Linked DNA regions of Homo sapiens. The protein of the gene in region 1 interacts with the protein of each later gene in a pairwise test. Each region holds a gene or a part of one and is shown in the gene's direction. Other genes may lie near its edges.

Region 1 (8,211 bases):
TGTATTTTTGAAAAATTACTTTTTGATCTGAAAGGGTTAAGGAAAACGGCATTTTCCCTTTTTACTATTGAGAGTTTTTATTGTCTTGGTATCTTTTGAATGGTGTCATTTACAGCAATTGGATGGAGTCCCTTTTTTACTACTTTCTAGCAAAAGTAGAAGAAAATACTTTGAATATTTAAGATGTTTAAAACTAGTTTTTTTGGGTTTTGTTGTTTGGTTGGTTGGTTGGTTGGTTTTTTTTTTGAGACGGAGTCTCGCTCTACGCTCTGTCGCCCCGGCTGGAGTGCAGCGGCGCAATCTCAGCTCACTGCAACCTCTGCCTCCCAGATTCAAGCGATGCTCCTGCCTCAGCCTCCTGAGTAGCTGAGATTATAGGCACGTGCCACCACGCCCGGCTAATTTTTGTCCGAAGTAGCCGGGACTACAGGCGCAAGCTACCACGCCCTGCTAATTTTGTATTTTTAGTAGAGATGGGGTTTCGCCATATTTGCAGGCTGCTCTCGAACTCCTCATCTCAAGTGATCCATCTGCTTTGGCCTCCCAAAGTGCTGGGATTACAGGCGTGAGCCACCATGCCCGGCCTAAAACTAGTTTTTTACCGTCTTACTTTGGTTATGGAAGAAGAGATGGTGTGGTCCCTGGTCATTTCTTGTTTGCATGCTAGTCACCTTGTTATCCCTAGGCATATACCGTCAGGAAGGAGCATTGTTTGGTGATGCGGGCCATCAGGACAGGTTGCCCAGCCTCTGAACTCCTGTACTGGAGAAGTGGCCTTAGGGTTCATGCTTTGGGGATGAGTCAGGGATTCCTATTGGAGAGTTCATTTCTTTCTTTCTTTCTTTCTTTCTTTTTTTTTTGAGATGTAACACCTCGCTGTGTCGCCCAGGTTGGAGTGCAGTGGCTCAATCTCGGCTCACTGCATCCTCCACCTCCCAGGTTCAAGCGATTCTCCTGCCTCAGCCTCCTGAGTAGCTGAGATTACAGGCGCATGCCACCACGCCTGGCTAATTTTTGTATTTTTAGTAGAGATGGGATTTCACCATATTGGCCAGACTGGTCTTGAACTTTCATCTGACTGACTTTGTGATCTGCCCGCCTCAGCCTCCCAAAGTGCTAGGATTACAGGCATGAGCCACCGAGAGTTCATTTCTCCAAGAGTAAATGAGTTTCCTTTTTCTTCCATGATACCTAGGTATAGCTAGGTGATTCTACATTAGAGATTTGATGACTAAGGCTATTCTTTTATAGGGCTTTTTTTTTTTTTAATTTCCTGACTTGATAAGCAATAGCTGTAATTAAGACAGCCGGTAGTTGGTGCTGCTTTTTCCCCTGACTGGAAGGCTGGAGAGGAACTATGTTCTCCTGGCATGGAAAGAGAAAAAAAAGATTAGCTTATAGATTCTATTATTTTTAAATTCTGATGTCGATTAAAAATGCATTTTAAATTCTTAACATTTTATGACTGAGCCTTAGAGATAATGTAGCTGATATAACTGTTCCATCATAAAATAATGTTTATTCCAAATTTGGAAATTAATAGAATAATAATAATGCCTTACACTTAGACCACAGTTCAAATGAACACTCCACTTGCCTGACTGGTGATGATGCTCTTTTCGCTCTATCCAGCTGTCCTACAGTCCTGTCATTTAAAGGCTACCTCTGTTAATATTTTTTGGTTTTGTTTTGTTTTGTTGTTTTGTTCTGTTTTTGAGACAGGGTCTCACTCTGTCACCCAGGCTGGAGTGCATGGTTGCGATCCTGGCTCACGGCAGCGTCGGTCTCCCTGGGCTCAGGTGATCCTCCCACTTCAGCCTCCAGAGTAGCTGGGGCTATGGGCCCACCCCACCAAGCCCTGCTGATTTTTGTATTTTTTGTAGAGACAGGGTTTCCCCATGTTGCCCAGGCTGGTCTCAAACTCCTGGGCTCAAGCAATCCACCTGCCTCAGCCTCAAAGTGCTGGGGTTACAGGTGTGAGCCACCGTAGCCGGCCTACTACTTGGTAACTATCTTATATCTTAATTTTGTTTCTTTATGTTTGAGTATTTAGGTCATTCTACTTTCTGCTGTTACATATAGTAATTCTGTGATTAACATTTTTGCTGAAACTGACATTTTTCACTGTTGCATAAGATAGCTTCCCAGGAGTACTAGGTAGACGTATATAAACATTTAATACATGTTCATAAACTTGAAAAAGTTTTGTCAGTTTATACAACTGTCATAATGTATGAGTGTTCATATTATAATTTTCTTGATCTTTATTTGATGGTTGAAAACTGATATCTTGTTTTAACTTGAATTTCTTGATTACTATTGAGGATAGAAATTTTCCACCTGTCATTACTATTCTATGAGTGTCTATTCCTGGCCTTGGTTGTGCCCCATACTGTTAAAGAGGAGACAGCTAAGGTACCCAGACTGTGCAGAACTATGTTGCCTAGATGGTTATTTGCATGTTGAAAACATGCTAATTTTGCTAATAAATTAGCAAATAGCTAATTTGTGGCTGATCCAGAATTTGATCTCAATTATCTCTACTTTTAATATTTACAAAATGAGAGATAAATGTATAAAGTAGGGTGGTGCACATTCATGTTTGACAGACCTAGGTTTTAACTCCACACAGACTCCCTCTGATGGCTGGGGGTTGGGGAGGTGGTCCTGGACCATACTTTGAGAACCAGTGAGCTAATACATGGTAAATGATAAAGGTAATGCTGGGAAAGTTAGGTAGAGGTCTTTTTGTGAAGGATCTTACATCTATGCTATACTTAGATTTTATTCTACAGACCGATAATAGCAATTCTGGACAGTCTGCATTGTAACTCCTAGAGACATGGAGAAAGTAGGGAGGTGTTAAGAAAATAGACATGCTGGTCCACTCCAGCGTCATTCCCCCATCTCACCTTCTCCAGCCTGCTCCTTGAGTTGTACTCTGAACCTTCACTTACTTAGATAGGTTCTGGTAGAAAAGGTGAGAATCATTAGTCTGGGTTTCTGGAGCACTACTGAGTCTTTTAAGAAAGGTAAACAGTCATTTGTGTTTTACAAAGTTGAATCTGATAGCAGTATGAAGGGTGGCATTTTGGAAGCTGTTGAAATATAAGAAGTGAGATGTGAGGGCCTGAAGTGAACTGAGATGGGGAAATAGAGTGTATACAACACATCTGATAAGAATTAAGAAAGGAGTCTCAATGATTCATTAGATGTAGGTAGTAAAGAAGAAAAGAGTATAGTGTTATGACTCGCAAAATATCTAGCTTGGTATCTGTCACCCAAGCTAGAGAATACCATTTGGTAGAGTAAGGAGTGAGGGAGGAGAAACAAGTAGAGGAGACCAAACAACATTGTAGGAGGAAGTTTCAGGGGGAGAAGAGGATAAATTTAATTTTCAACATGTTAAAACTGCGGTGCCTCTGAGACATCCAGTAGAAATGTAGAGCTCAAGATTTCTGACAGGACGGAGTTAAAGATGTAGGCATCATAATATAAGCATGTAGGAGATAGTCGACAGCATGGGAGTGAATGAGCTTATTCCAACAAACTTATAGAGTGACCAGCTTTAGGTTGAAGAACATCAGTCTTAAAATAACAGCCAAAAGAAGGATATACTAGTGATTGTTCCTGAGAAGGTGTGGTCAAGGAGGAGGGAGGAGAACCAGAGATGTCAGAAAAGCCAGGGAGAGTTTCAAGAAAGGAGTTATTACCAGAGTCAAATAATGCTGGGAGGACCGGTAAGGTGAGGTTGAGAAAGTACCTATTCCATTTGGCACATAGGAGTGCTTTGGTGACTAGAAAAAACAGTTTGGGTTGGGGTATGGGAAGAAGCTAGATTATAGGGTGAAGGGTGGGTTTAGTGTCTTTCCATTTTTTTTAACATTTTGAAAGTAGATGGTAGGAGCTAGAGGAAGATTGGTTGAAGGAGAGTGTGCCCCTTCCACTGCCTTTTTTTTTTTTTTTTAAAGAGAGAACTAGAGAATATTTTTCTTATTATTTCTTGTCTATGTGTATATCCTCTTTAGCCTGGGAAGATCTTATGTTGCAGTCTTGATAAATATAAAAATTTTAATCATTTGTTTATTCAGTGTTGTAGCTTATAGGTTTAAAAAAACTAATAATAGCTTTATTGAGATATAAGTACCTACCATAAGATTTATTCATTTAAAGTCTATGATTCACTAGTTTTTTATTACATTGATGAAGTTATGCAACAATAACCATAATCAATTTTAGGACATTTTCTTCACTTTCTGTACCCATTAGCAGTCACTCCCCGCCTTCCCATAAGCCCCAGGCAACCACAAATCTACCTTCTGTTTCCATAGATTTAAGTATTCTGGACATTTTATATAAATGGAATCATACAATATGTGGTGTTTTGTGACTGACTCCACCTAACATGATGATTTCAAGTTTCATCCATGTTATAGTATTGATCCGTAGTACTTTTGGCCTTTTTATGGCTGAATAATATTCTATTGTATAGATACCACATTTTGTTTATCCATTCATCGTGTTGATGGGTATTTGAATTGTTTCCACTTTTTGGCTAATGTGAATAATGCAGCTATGAACATTTGTGTACAAGTTTCTGTGTGGACACATTTTCAGGTCTCTTGGGTATATATCTAAGTGTGGAATTGCTCAGTCACGTGGTAACACTATGTTTAACATTTTGCGGAACTGCCAGACTGTTATCCAAAGCTGCTGCACATATTACATTCCAATCAGGAATATATGAGGGTTCCAGTTCCTCTACATCTTCACCGATACTTGTTGCTGTCTTTTTGATTATAGGCATCCTACTGGGTGTGAAGTGGTATCTTCTTGTGGTTAGCTTGTAAGATTTTGTGTGTCTTAATTTGTCTTTCAAAGCTAGAGTGATAGGAAATATTTTCCAGTCCTTGCATTTGAGCTAATCTTAGTGCTTACCCAGTGCCACTGGTTTAGTTATGGTTTTCTTATCCATCCTTTGATGAGTATTCACCTAAACATATTTACATCAACTAACTTCAGAAGTGGAAGTGAACTTTTAAGTAACTCTCCAGACATGGTTCACTGAGACAGTAAACTAAAAATTTACTTTAAGCATTCTCAAGAATGTTTTACTTTATTTACTTTCAAAATATATTAACTTTTTTCCATCAATATTTGATATTTAACTTGGAAAAAGGATTTTTAAAGGATGAAACTGAAAGTAAGACATTAACATTTAGGTGGCTGTAGGTTTTTTGTTCATATGTTAAATACTTCTGTGTTTCTGTAGCACTGAGTTCATTAGATTCATAAATATTTACATTTCTGTCTTCCCCAGACTGAACGCCTCCCAGGCTAGAGACTGGGACTTAATTATCCCTGTATCCCCATTGCTTAATATAGTGCTTGGCATTTAATAGGCACTAATGTCCATTGCATGTGCAGACATTGTAGACAAACTTAATGCTGTAAGACAGATTTATTCTTCAGGTGAATTCTTCAGTGGTCCAAGGGTTTGTCTTCTAGACGATCATGAGAACTGCTTCTTCCCCTCCTACACAGATGTGCTCACATAACTCGTTGTATTTTCAGTATCCACTGAAAAAGAAAATACAAGATAAGAGCTACATTGAATTCAAATATTTTAAATAAATATGATTTTATTAGCTGCAGTTTCTTAAGGTAACTTCTGTATTTGTGCATCCCACACCCAATGGATCATACTTTGTTGACATTGTCTTAGAGTATTAATAAAATGTCTTTTAAACTTTTGGCTTTGGACTTAATAAAATCAAGATATCATGTCATCGGTATCTCTTCAAAAATAGTGAATTTGTGGGTATTTAGAGAGTGATTACAAGTGATATCTGTTGTTCTCTACTTGCCTCTAGTTTCTTTCCTCATCCAGTCCATTCAACACATCATACTCACTTTCAAGTGGCAGCATCTGTAGGCTAATGGAAACCATACTGGTTGTACAATCAGGAGATGTGGGCTGCACTGGAAGCATGGTTTAATTTTTATTATTAAAAATATAAGTTAAAAAAACTCATTGCTCCCTTTGATGACCATTACAATTATTGGAAATTTTAAATGTGTATTTTGAAAGTCAATTCAAAACATATGATCCAAGTGCTGCTCCTTTTTCAAACTGTAATTATGTCTGTCTCTCTTTCCAGAGAGATTTGATTCCCTGATTTTTCCCTTCTCAGCTCCCTCCAATTTTAAATATATATATATAGTTTTTTTTAATAATTAAAAAAAAATACTTCACCTGGAAGTTTTCATCCAATTTTGTAACTTTGGTCCTAGTTGAGAATCACAGGCCTATAGGATAAAGTCTGTACTTCTTAGCCTGGCATTCCAGAACCTTCTTAACATAATGTCACAGTACCTTTCCAGTGTTAAACTTCTATACTCTGGTATGTATCCTCTCTTCTTTTTGAAGGAAGCTATTCCTGGTCCTTGAGCATACCTACTAAATGAATGAAATCTTGCTTATCTGTGGTTGTACTGTTGAACATACTTTTTCCCTCAGAAAGCTTCCCTTTTATTTTATTTTATTTTATTTTTTTGAGACAAAGTCTTGCTTTGTTGCCAGGCTGGAGTGCAGTGGCACCATCTCAGCTCACTGCAACCTCCGCCTCCTGGGTTCAAGCAATTCTGCTGCCTCGGTCTCCTGAGTAGCTGGGATTACGGGCGCCCGTGACCACACACAGCTACTTTTTTTATTTTTAGTAGAGATGGGGTTTCACCATGTTGGCCAGGATGGTCTCCCCTTTTATTTTATAAACCAGTACTTGGAAGATGAGAAAGCTAAAAATTTAAAATGACTTCACCATGTTCACCAAAAACTCAGAAGCAAAAATGTGATTAATTCTCACCTTCTAGAATAAATATTTTAGCACAGTTAATCTTAAAGCACTTTTTCTCCTTTGTAAAGTTTGATCTTTAATATCACAAGAAAAAAAGCCTTTCATTAGATTTGAGTTGAAAACTTGATAAGGTAAATCAGGTGATATGCAATTTCTAAACCACTAGTCTTTTCCAAATATGAGTTGAACTCCTCTTCCAGCATTTTATATTTCCTGTAGTATTTAAGTTTCTTTAGATTCATGCAGTCAAACCTTGACAATTATCTCCTTCCTTCTGAAATCACACAAAAATCTTGTTTGCATTTGTACAGTATTGTAGGGTCTGTAGCTGGCCTATGGCAGATATAAGAAGCAAACAGTAGTTGCTCCCTAAAAGTTTTTTTTGGAGAAAGTGGAGTGTGGACTGTATTAGTCCATTTTCACACTGCTATGAAGAACTGCCCGAGACTGGGTAATTTATAAAGGAAAGAGGTTTAATTGACTCACAGTTCAGCATGGCTGGGGAGGCCTCAGGAAACTTACGATTGTGGTGGAAGGTGAAGGGGAAGCAAGGCACCTTCTTCACAAGGTGGCAGGAAGGAGAATGAACATGGGAGGAACTACCAAACATTTGTAAAACCATCAGATCTTGTGAGAACTCACTATCAGGAGAATAGCATGGGGGATTATAATTACATAGGGATTATAATTCAAGATGAGATTTGGTGGGGACACAAAGCCTAGTCATATCGTGGACCATGATAATCTCAGAGGCTTTGGGAAGTGTGCTAATATCTACATTTCCTGTAATAACTTTTATATCTAATCGGCATTTAAAAAGCTATTTTAACAACATTTGAGTGACTGTCCTGATAGGCTCTGAAGGAATGCAAAGATTTGTCTCTGTCATCCATCCATGGTCTCTGTCATCCATCCATGGTCTCTATCATTTATCCATTCATACAGAAGGTATTTATGGAGATACCTGAGTGCCCACTATGCCCTAGGTACTGTGTTTTTGAATTGACAGTTGAAAACATGGCAGTACTCTGTTCAGGAAGTTTACTAACTGAACAGACCTGTGAGAAGCAGCGGGACTTTTCCTGGGGGCAGTGGGTGGGCTTCAGGGGAATCTTTGAACCCTTTTAAATTATATATAATATTTTTTGTGTGTAAGCCCATTTTAGGGGGAAGAAAGTTCATAGCTCTTAGTTTCTCAAGGAGTTTGGGTCCCTTAGACTAGTGGAAAGATAAGGAGTTTAGGAGCTATACAGTCATTAATTTCTATCCTGGCCCTGCTGTGATTCTGAGCAGATTATCTAGAGAAGTTGGGGCTCTAATACCTACCTGGAAAGAACAAGATAATATATGTAAA
Region 2 (8,211 bases), about 21 Mb from region 1:
TATTTTTAGTAGAGACGGGTTTCATCATCTTGGCCAGGCCGGTCTTGAACTCCTGACCTCGTGATTCACCCGCCTCAGCCTCCCAAAGTGCTGGGATTACAGGCGTGAGCCACCGCGCCTGGCCACCTGTACACTTCTTACACGGTTTTTATTCCATTCTTTTACAATTTTATGGTGTCATGAATTATAAAATGAATTTTGTTGGGGTGTTGTAGAACAAAGCAATCAGAAAAGTTAATCTGTAAATAGAGATATCAAATCTTGACATACATATAGCATAAGGAAATATTTGGTAATTTGTAGCAACTTTTGCTACAAATTTTCCTTTCATATTCTGATCTTTGTAGGATAGGTGTATATGTTTTGACGTGTTGCATATGAATAATGGGTACCTAGGGTTAAAGTCTGTGGAAAAGACGCACAGTCAGGCCGGGAGCAGTGGATCACACCTGTAATCCCAGCACTTTGGGAGGCCCAGGTGGGTGGATTGCTTGAGGTCAGGAGTTCGAGACCAGCCTGACCAACATGGTGAAATTCCCTCTCTACTAAATATACAAAAATTAGCCGTGCGTGGTGGTGGGAGCCTGTAATCCCAACTATTTGGGAGGCTGAGGCAGGAAAATTGCTTGCACCCAGGGAGCGGAGCTTACAGTGAGCCGAGATTGTGCCACTGCATCATAGCCTGGGCAACAGAGTGAGACTCCGTCTCAAAAAAAAAAAAAAAAAAAAGAAAGGAAGATGCACAATCAGACATAGATATTCAGGGGCTTGTCTCTCCATCCAAAAGAGTTTATTGATCCTCGTTAGCTGAGGTGGGTTCTTGACCAAGATATATTAGACCAAGTTTAAAAAAAAACCTTTAAGCTAATCCTGACTAGTGAGCTCGCTGGTTAAAAAAGAGGAATCCCGCTTGACCATGTATGGTAGATAAAAGAGCAGTTACACGCCAAAAACCTAACTAAAGCTTCTGGTAATCTAGGAGCCTGCACTCCTTGTGAAGATAGAGCTAGACACTTTCAAATAAGGATAGACCCATTTCATAGGGTCTTTCGCCTCCTTGTTCTTCTTTCTGCTTGAAGCCTGATCAGTCTATCCAGTTTAATGGTGCCTTAGAGAAAGCATGCAGTTAACTGAAATTCAGCTTTTAAACTGAAGATCATTTATCTATGGTGTCTTCATCATCTAGATTCATTGCTAGACTCAGAAGCTGAAAAAGATATTTTCTTATTCAGTCATAATAAAGCTATGTAAATATATAGATTGCACTTGCCCATCAGGCAAGAAGGCATTTCTTGGTTGAACTTTATTTTGGGCCTCTTCTTTGAGCTGGGATGCCGTTTTGCCCCCTACGCCCGCCCCGTCTAGGAGCCTCTTTTCCTGAGAATCTGTGTTTCTGTAAGGGCCCTTGTTGTTATGTAGACTAAGACTTGTTGGTCCTCTCTAGGAAGCTTTTATGTAAAGGGAGAAAGTTCACTGTTTTCACACCCAGTTAAATTGCCAAACTAAGATTACAGTTCAGTTCTTTTCCCCAGATCATAGTTATCAGATCATTCTTCTCTTAGAAAACATGGATGCGCCTTTTCTAAGATTCTCAGGATTCACATCATAAACGGGGACTAGAAATAAAGAAAGATCTTGTATATGTGAACGAATTTCTCTAAGCTCACACTTTCTTATTAATATTAGGATAGTGGTGAGACAAGGAAACCCAGTTCTATTGTTCTGCAGCATATTAGGTCACAGAGTACAGAGGAAGCTTTTAGCAGCTCCAGATAAAGGACCTCACGGAAGCCCGTGAAGCCAGTGGGACTCAGCTACTGATTAAACAGCAGCTTGTGAAACCGAGCCTCTCGTTTTAGATTAAACAAACAGACTTGTATTTTGAAAAAGATTTCTAAAGTAAAGGAAATGCTTTCTAAAGTATGAATTACTGTGTTTAACAGCCTCTGGGAAAATTATTTTCAACAGGCTTTCTATGCAAATTATTTTAGGATTTATAGCTATAAATCTTGAAATTTGATTTTGGTTGGGATTGCTGCAATTACTTTTACTTGGTGATATTTTGGGGTTAACTAAATATGCTCATTTGAACAGTAATAGGAAGTCCGTCTGCAGTTTTGTAGCTGATTAGCACTGAAGTTATCAAATCCTTACAGTTTTGCTGATAATCAGTGTGCTGAGTGTTCCTGCAAATTCTCTTAAAAATTTAGAGTCCTTGGGCCCTCTCTGGCCCCTGTGTATTGTGTCACTTAGATAACAGCTGTAGATATAATTTTAAAAAGACACTGTCATATAAATAAGGGACGTCCAGGGTTCTGAAACAGTAAACAAATGAGTCCTCAAAAAAGTTCTTGTAAATGGACATATAGAAATAATCCAACTTTTTCGTTTAGTTGAGAGTAAAATTCATGAACCAATCCTAGCTGGAACAGAGTGTTGTAGGAAGAGCTTGGGCTTTGTAGTGAGATCTGGGTGTGAAGCCTTGGCTGCCGCTGGAATAGCTTAAGGACCCTGGGTCAGTTACTCGACCTCTGGGCTTAGAACTCCATCATTAAAAAGGGTGGCAATGACAATATTTACCCAAAGGGTTGTGGGGGGCACAGTGGTGTACCCTCTCACACTAGATTGCTTCATTGTTTCAGATTTCTTTGTAAATTTGGTTATCATCAAATTGACTAATGGCAGGTGGTATGGCATCAAAGCAGGAGCTCAAAGTGGTAGCTGCGTAACATGGCATGTCTAGAATTTACTGGATTTAAAAAATCTTTGTTGCTCAAAATAACTTTTTTATGGTGGATGGAGATGCTTTAGAGAGAAATCTGGTTTATTTAAGTCTAAGCTGGTATTGTTACTACTTGAAATTCGTAGTGTTGGAGAACTATGCTGGAAATTTTTAGGATCATCTGGGTTAGTCTGCTTTTATGTAATAAACCTGTTTTTAAAGTGGAAGATGACTAAAGCTCTTGCATGTGAACAGATGCTGATTTTAATTTATTTAAAGGAATCATGAGCACTTGAAAGTTTTTCTTGATCTTAAACACAATTGTGTATTGTCATGAGGCATCCCTGATTAACCCAGGTTGTAGTAGAACAAGCCCAGAGCTGATGCTTTCTCTTAGAAACCAGAGAGATGAATGTGACTGACGTTTTTCTTTCTCCCTCTCATTTTTCTTTTTTTTAAGAGACAGGATCTTGCTCTGCTGCCCAGGCTAGAGTGCAGTGGTGCGATCATAGCTCACTGCAACCTCCAACTCCTGGCCTCAAGAGATCCTCCCATTTCAGCCTCCCAAAGTGCTGGGGTTATAGGCATGAGTCACTGCACCAGGCAAGACTTGGTTTATCTGTAAAACGGAGAGAATAGTTACAGTCTTGTGAAGGTCCAAACCTGTGTTGTCTAGTACAATAGCCACTAGCTCCCTGTGGATGCTTAAATGTAAACGTTTTAGAACGAAAGCTTCAGTTCTTCAGTGGCACTGGCCACAAGTTAAGGGCTTGATAACTGCAGGTGGCTGGTGGCTACGGCATTGGACAGCACAGAAGAGAACTTCCCATTATGGAAAAAGGTTCTGTGGGACAGGGCTGGTGTGAGGCAGGTACAGTGCCCAGTCCTTGGTTAGGACATGTAAGGCCAGCTGTGATTATAATTATGATCATGATCCTGATTCTTCGTGAACTCCCAAATCTAGGCCCATTACAAGGGTGAGGGAAGTGAGAAGAGGGCTTTGAAAAAAGAAAGAAGAAAAGACAAAATAATTGTGGAGTTTTTGCTGGTGAAGAGATGAGAACTGAGGTAGCACAACCTCAGCTCCCCACTGCAGAACAGAAGAAAGAGACTTCAGGGAAAAACAGTCTTGCTCTGTCACTCAGGCTGGAGTGCAATGGCACAATCACAGCTCACTGTAGCCTCAAACTCCCAGGCTCAAGCAATCCTCCTGCCTCAGCCTCCTGAGTAGGTGTGTGTCACCTACAGACACTTACCTGTAGGTGTGTGACTACAGGTGTGTGCCACCATGCCCACTTTATTTTTTTGTAGAGATGGTGATATGGTTTGGCTGTTTCCTCACCCAATTCTTATCTTGAATTGTAGTTCCCGTAATCCCCATATGTCGTGTGAGGAACCCCATGGGAGATAGTTGAATCATGGGGGTGGTTACCCCCATGCTATTCTTGTGATAGTGAATGAGTTCTCACAAGATCTGATGGTTTTGTAAGGACTTTTCCCCCTTTGCTTGGCACTTCTCTCTCCTGCTGCCATGTGACGAAGGACATGTTTGCTTCCCCTTCCACCGTGTTTATAAGTTTCCTGAGGCCTCCCCAGCCATGTGGAACTGTGAGTCAATTAAACCTCTTTCCTTGATAAATTACCCAGTCTTGAGCGATTCTTTATAGCACTGTAAGAATGGACTAATACAGCTGGCGTCTCACTGTGTTGCCCAGGCTGGTCTCAAATTCCTGGCCTCAAGTGATCCTCCTGCCTCAGTCTCCAAAAGTGGTAGGATTATAGGTGTGAGCCACCGCACCTGGCCCTTTCTCATTTAAAATCATGTGCTTTTATAGTCGACTAGCAGTGCTTTATTACTGTTTTAAAACTTTGTATTTACTAAAATGAGGGAAGGAATATTCTCGGAGGAGATGCTGGACAACCATCTCTGATCTAGAAGACTGCTCCCTCTAGGGATTTTAGATTCCATTATCAGCTTTTCTTTGAATCTTCTTATGAAGATACTGTTGCAGAAAACTGGGGAAGTTATGGTAAAATTAGCATGTCTGCAGAGCAAAATATTGGATTGATGTCTTTTAAAATTGTAGCAAGTGGCTAATTCGGAGCCCTGCCTTGGCATTACAATTGTTTGTCACAAAGAGCAGGCATATCAGAAAAGTAACCTCATTATTAAATTCTTTTTTTTTTTTTTGCAAAAGTTAGCTCAGTGCAGTGATTCCAAATGTCATTTATTGTATTGTGATTCAGGTGGGAAAAGTGAGCACTATTTATGCCAGATGTCTCAGGTACCCGCAGCCACAGCATTGATCAGTATCTTTCATTTTCTCTGCCTTTTTTTCCTTCCCCAACCACAAAAGAGTGACTCTGTATTCCTCTGCCCACCTGGGCCTTTGGTAGGAGGGGGTGGTGGTGGTAAACCTTCTGTTTAATTTTTGACAATTTGGTAGGTAGGTTTTGCATTTTATTATATGTGTTTTTTTAAAGTTTTTTTTTTTTTTTTTTGAGACAGGGTCTTGTTCTGTCACTCAGGCTGGAATGCAGTGGTGCAGTCATATTCACTGCAGTCTCTACTTCTTGGGCTAAAACGATCCTCCCACCTCAGCCTCCTGAATAGCTGGGACTACAGGTGGATACCACCATGCCTGACTGATGTAAAACATATTTTTTCTATAGAGATGGGATCTCACTATATTGCCCAGGCTGGTCTCAAACTCCTGGACTCAAGTGATCCTCCCACCTCAGCCTCCCAAAGTGCTGGGATTACAGGCATGAGCCACTGCACCTGGGTAGTTTTAATATTTTAAAAGGCTTGAGTTACCATCAGGTCAAATTAGGTGTGCAGGACCTTGTGCTATGGCTAAAGTAGCCCCTGTCTCCCTGCATCTGGTGAAGGGAGACGGTCGCATCGGGGTGTCTGCTGCAGCGCATCTGTTGTTGTTCCTGCCTCCACCCTCCACAGCACTTTTTTCAGAGCTAACTTGATCTGCCTATCGCTTGCAAAATATTCCATGCAAATTCCCATCTTCTGGCTCTCCATATATTCTCCCTGTTTGCAATTGCCTCTTTTCCTGCTTCTGTAAGTGCTGCCATCTTTTTATTTTTTTTAAAACCTCTTTGCGGACCCACCTTCCCTACTGAGTTATTGATCCTGGCCCAGCCCTTAGAGATTCCTTCCCTTGGTGAACTTGAGAGTGTATACCTGTGGAGCAAGATGTTTCATGGGGTGCCAGACGAAAACATTGGAACTGATGTTTATTCTCATTTCATCCTCTTAAAAGGTCAACTTATGTGATGTTTTAAGGTATAGAATGTGTGGTACACTAACACATTTTTTGATTTATAAATGACATGGGACGGAAAGAACATAAAATGTACTGCCTGGGTACAGTGGCTCATGCCTGTAATCCCAGCACGGTGGGAGGTCGAGGTGGGTGGATCACGTGAGGTCAGGAGTTCAAGACCAGCCTGGACAACACGGAGAAACCCCGTCTATACTAAAAAACACAAAAATTAGCTGGGTATGGTGGCACACTCCTAAAGTCTCAGCTACTCAGGAGGCTGAGGCAGGAGAGTCGCTTGAACCCAGGAGGCAGAGGTTGCAGTGAGCCGAGATCATGCCATTGCACACCAGCCTGGGCGACAGAGCGAGACTCAAAGAAAGAGAAAAAGAAAGAAGAAAGAAAGAGAAGAAAAAAAGAAAAGAAGGAAGGGAGGGCGGGAGAGAGGAGAGAGAAATTACTGCTGGCTGAAATCAAGAAAGGTTTGGTTTTGGGCCGGGTGCTGTGGCTCACACCTGTAATCTCAGCACTTTGGGAGGCCGAGGCGGGCGGGTCACGAGGTCAAGAGATTGAGACCATCCTGGCCAACATGGTGAAACCCCGTCTCTACTAAAAAGTCAGCTGAGTGTGGTGGCGGGCACTTATAGTCCCAGCTACTCAGGAGGCTGAGGTTGAACCCGGGAGGCGGAGGTTGCAGTGAGCTGAGATCGCACCACTGTGCCCAGGCCTAGTGACAGAGCAAGACTCCATCTCAAAAAAAGCAAAAAAAGAAAGGTTTGGTTTCATCATACCAGTCTACTACTTGCACTTAATAAATACCAAATACCACTTTATATCTTCATATCATTGGTTTTTTGTTTGTTTGTTTAAGAGACAAAGTCTTGCTCTGTTGCCCAGGCTGGAGTGCAGTGAACTGTCATGGTTTACTGCATCCCTGAACTCCTAGGCTCAAGCAGTCCTCCCATGTCAGCTCCTGAGTAGCTGGGACTATAGGCGCATGTAACCATGCTTGGCCAATTTTTACTTTTTGTAGAGATGGTCTACAAAAGTAAAGTTGCCATGTTGCCCAGGCTGGTCTCAAACTCCTGGCCTCAAGCAGTCCTCTGGCTTCGGCCTCCCACGGTGTTGGGATTATAGGTGTGAGCCACAGTGTCCGGCCTACATCATTGTTTAAGTCCTGTCTCTTTACCTAGTTTGCAAGGACCGTGTCTTATATCCTTGGGATAGCACATTTTTGGGATTGGTGTTTGGATGGTATGTCACAGGTTGTAGATGCTCTGTCAGCATTTGTAACTGAGGATGATGAAGATGATACTAGAGAACTAAGTTCTCCAAACCAGTACCTCAGTGTGTGTCTGTGTGTGTGTGTGTGCATGTGCGTGTGTTTGTGCGTGTGTGTGTGTGTTTGTGTCCGCGTGTGTGTGTGTGAAGGAGAGGGTATGAGCTGAAGCCTCTCATTCTCTTGCGGACTTGACTTCCCATGCAGCCACAGACCTTCACCTGGGATGAGGCCATTTATAGTTTTTTTTTTATTAAAACCTTTTTCTTTCACAACAATTTTAGATTTACAGAAACATTGCAAAGATAGTACAGAGTGTTCCTGTGTATCTTTTACCCAGTCCCTGTTGTTAACATCCTATATTAATGTAGTACATTTGTCACAACTAAGGAACAAGTATTAATATATTGCTATTAAATAAGTCCACAGCTTGTTCAGTTTCTTTAATATTTCTCTAGTGTCTTTTTTTCTCTTCCAGGAAACCACATTACATTTAGTAGTTATGCCCCTTGGGCTCCCCCAGTCCATTCCTTGTTTAGAGTGACCTGGACAGCTTTGAGGAGTACTGACTGGTCAGATATTTTGTAGAATGTCCCTCAACTGGGATTTGTCTGATGTTTTTCTCACGATTAGACTGGGGGTGTGGGTTTCTGGGAGGAAGACCACAGAGTTAAAGTGCCATTCTCATCACATCACATCAAGGGTGTGTGCACACAACATCACACAGCATGACTTGTCACTTGATCACCTGGCTGAGTAGTGTTTGTCAGCTTTCACCCTGTAAAGTTACTCTGTCCTCCCCTCCCCATGGTGTACGAGTGCAGGGTCAACACTTAATGAGTGGCAAGCTGTGCTCCACCTCTTTGCAAGGAAGTGTCTGTAGACATTCTTTGGAGTTCTGTTGAAGAGACTCGCGTATTCTCTTCTTTTCT

The links.
Region 2: the proteins of PTPN12 (region 1) and LMTK2 interact in a two-hybrid assay, tested with the Homo sapiens proteins (one study listed by BioGRID and IntAct).

Annotation. Positions count from the first base shown.
Region 1 is NC_000007.14:77,539,394-77,547,604, forward strand, and holds part of PTPN12 (tyrosine-protein phosphatase non-receptor type 12), read left to right. Parts: intron 1-8,211. UniProt on the Homo sapiens protein: Dephosphorylates a range of proteins, and thereby regulates cellular signaling cascades. Dephosphorylates cellular tyrosine kinases, such as ERBB2 and PTK2B/PYK2, and thereby regulates signaling via ERBB2 and PTK2B/PYK2.
Region 2 is NC_000007.14:98,109,035-98,117,245, forward strand, and holds part of LMTK2 (serine/threonine-protein kinase LMTK2 precursor), read left to right. Parts: intron 1-8,211. UniProt on the Homo sapiens protein: Phosphorylates PPP1C, phosphorylase b and CFTR.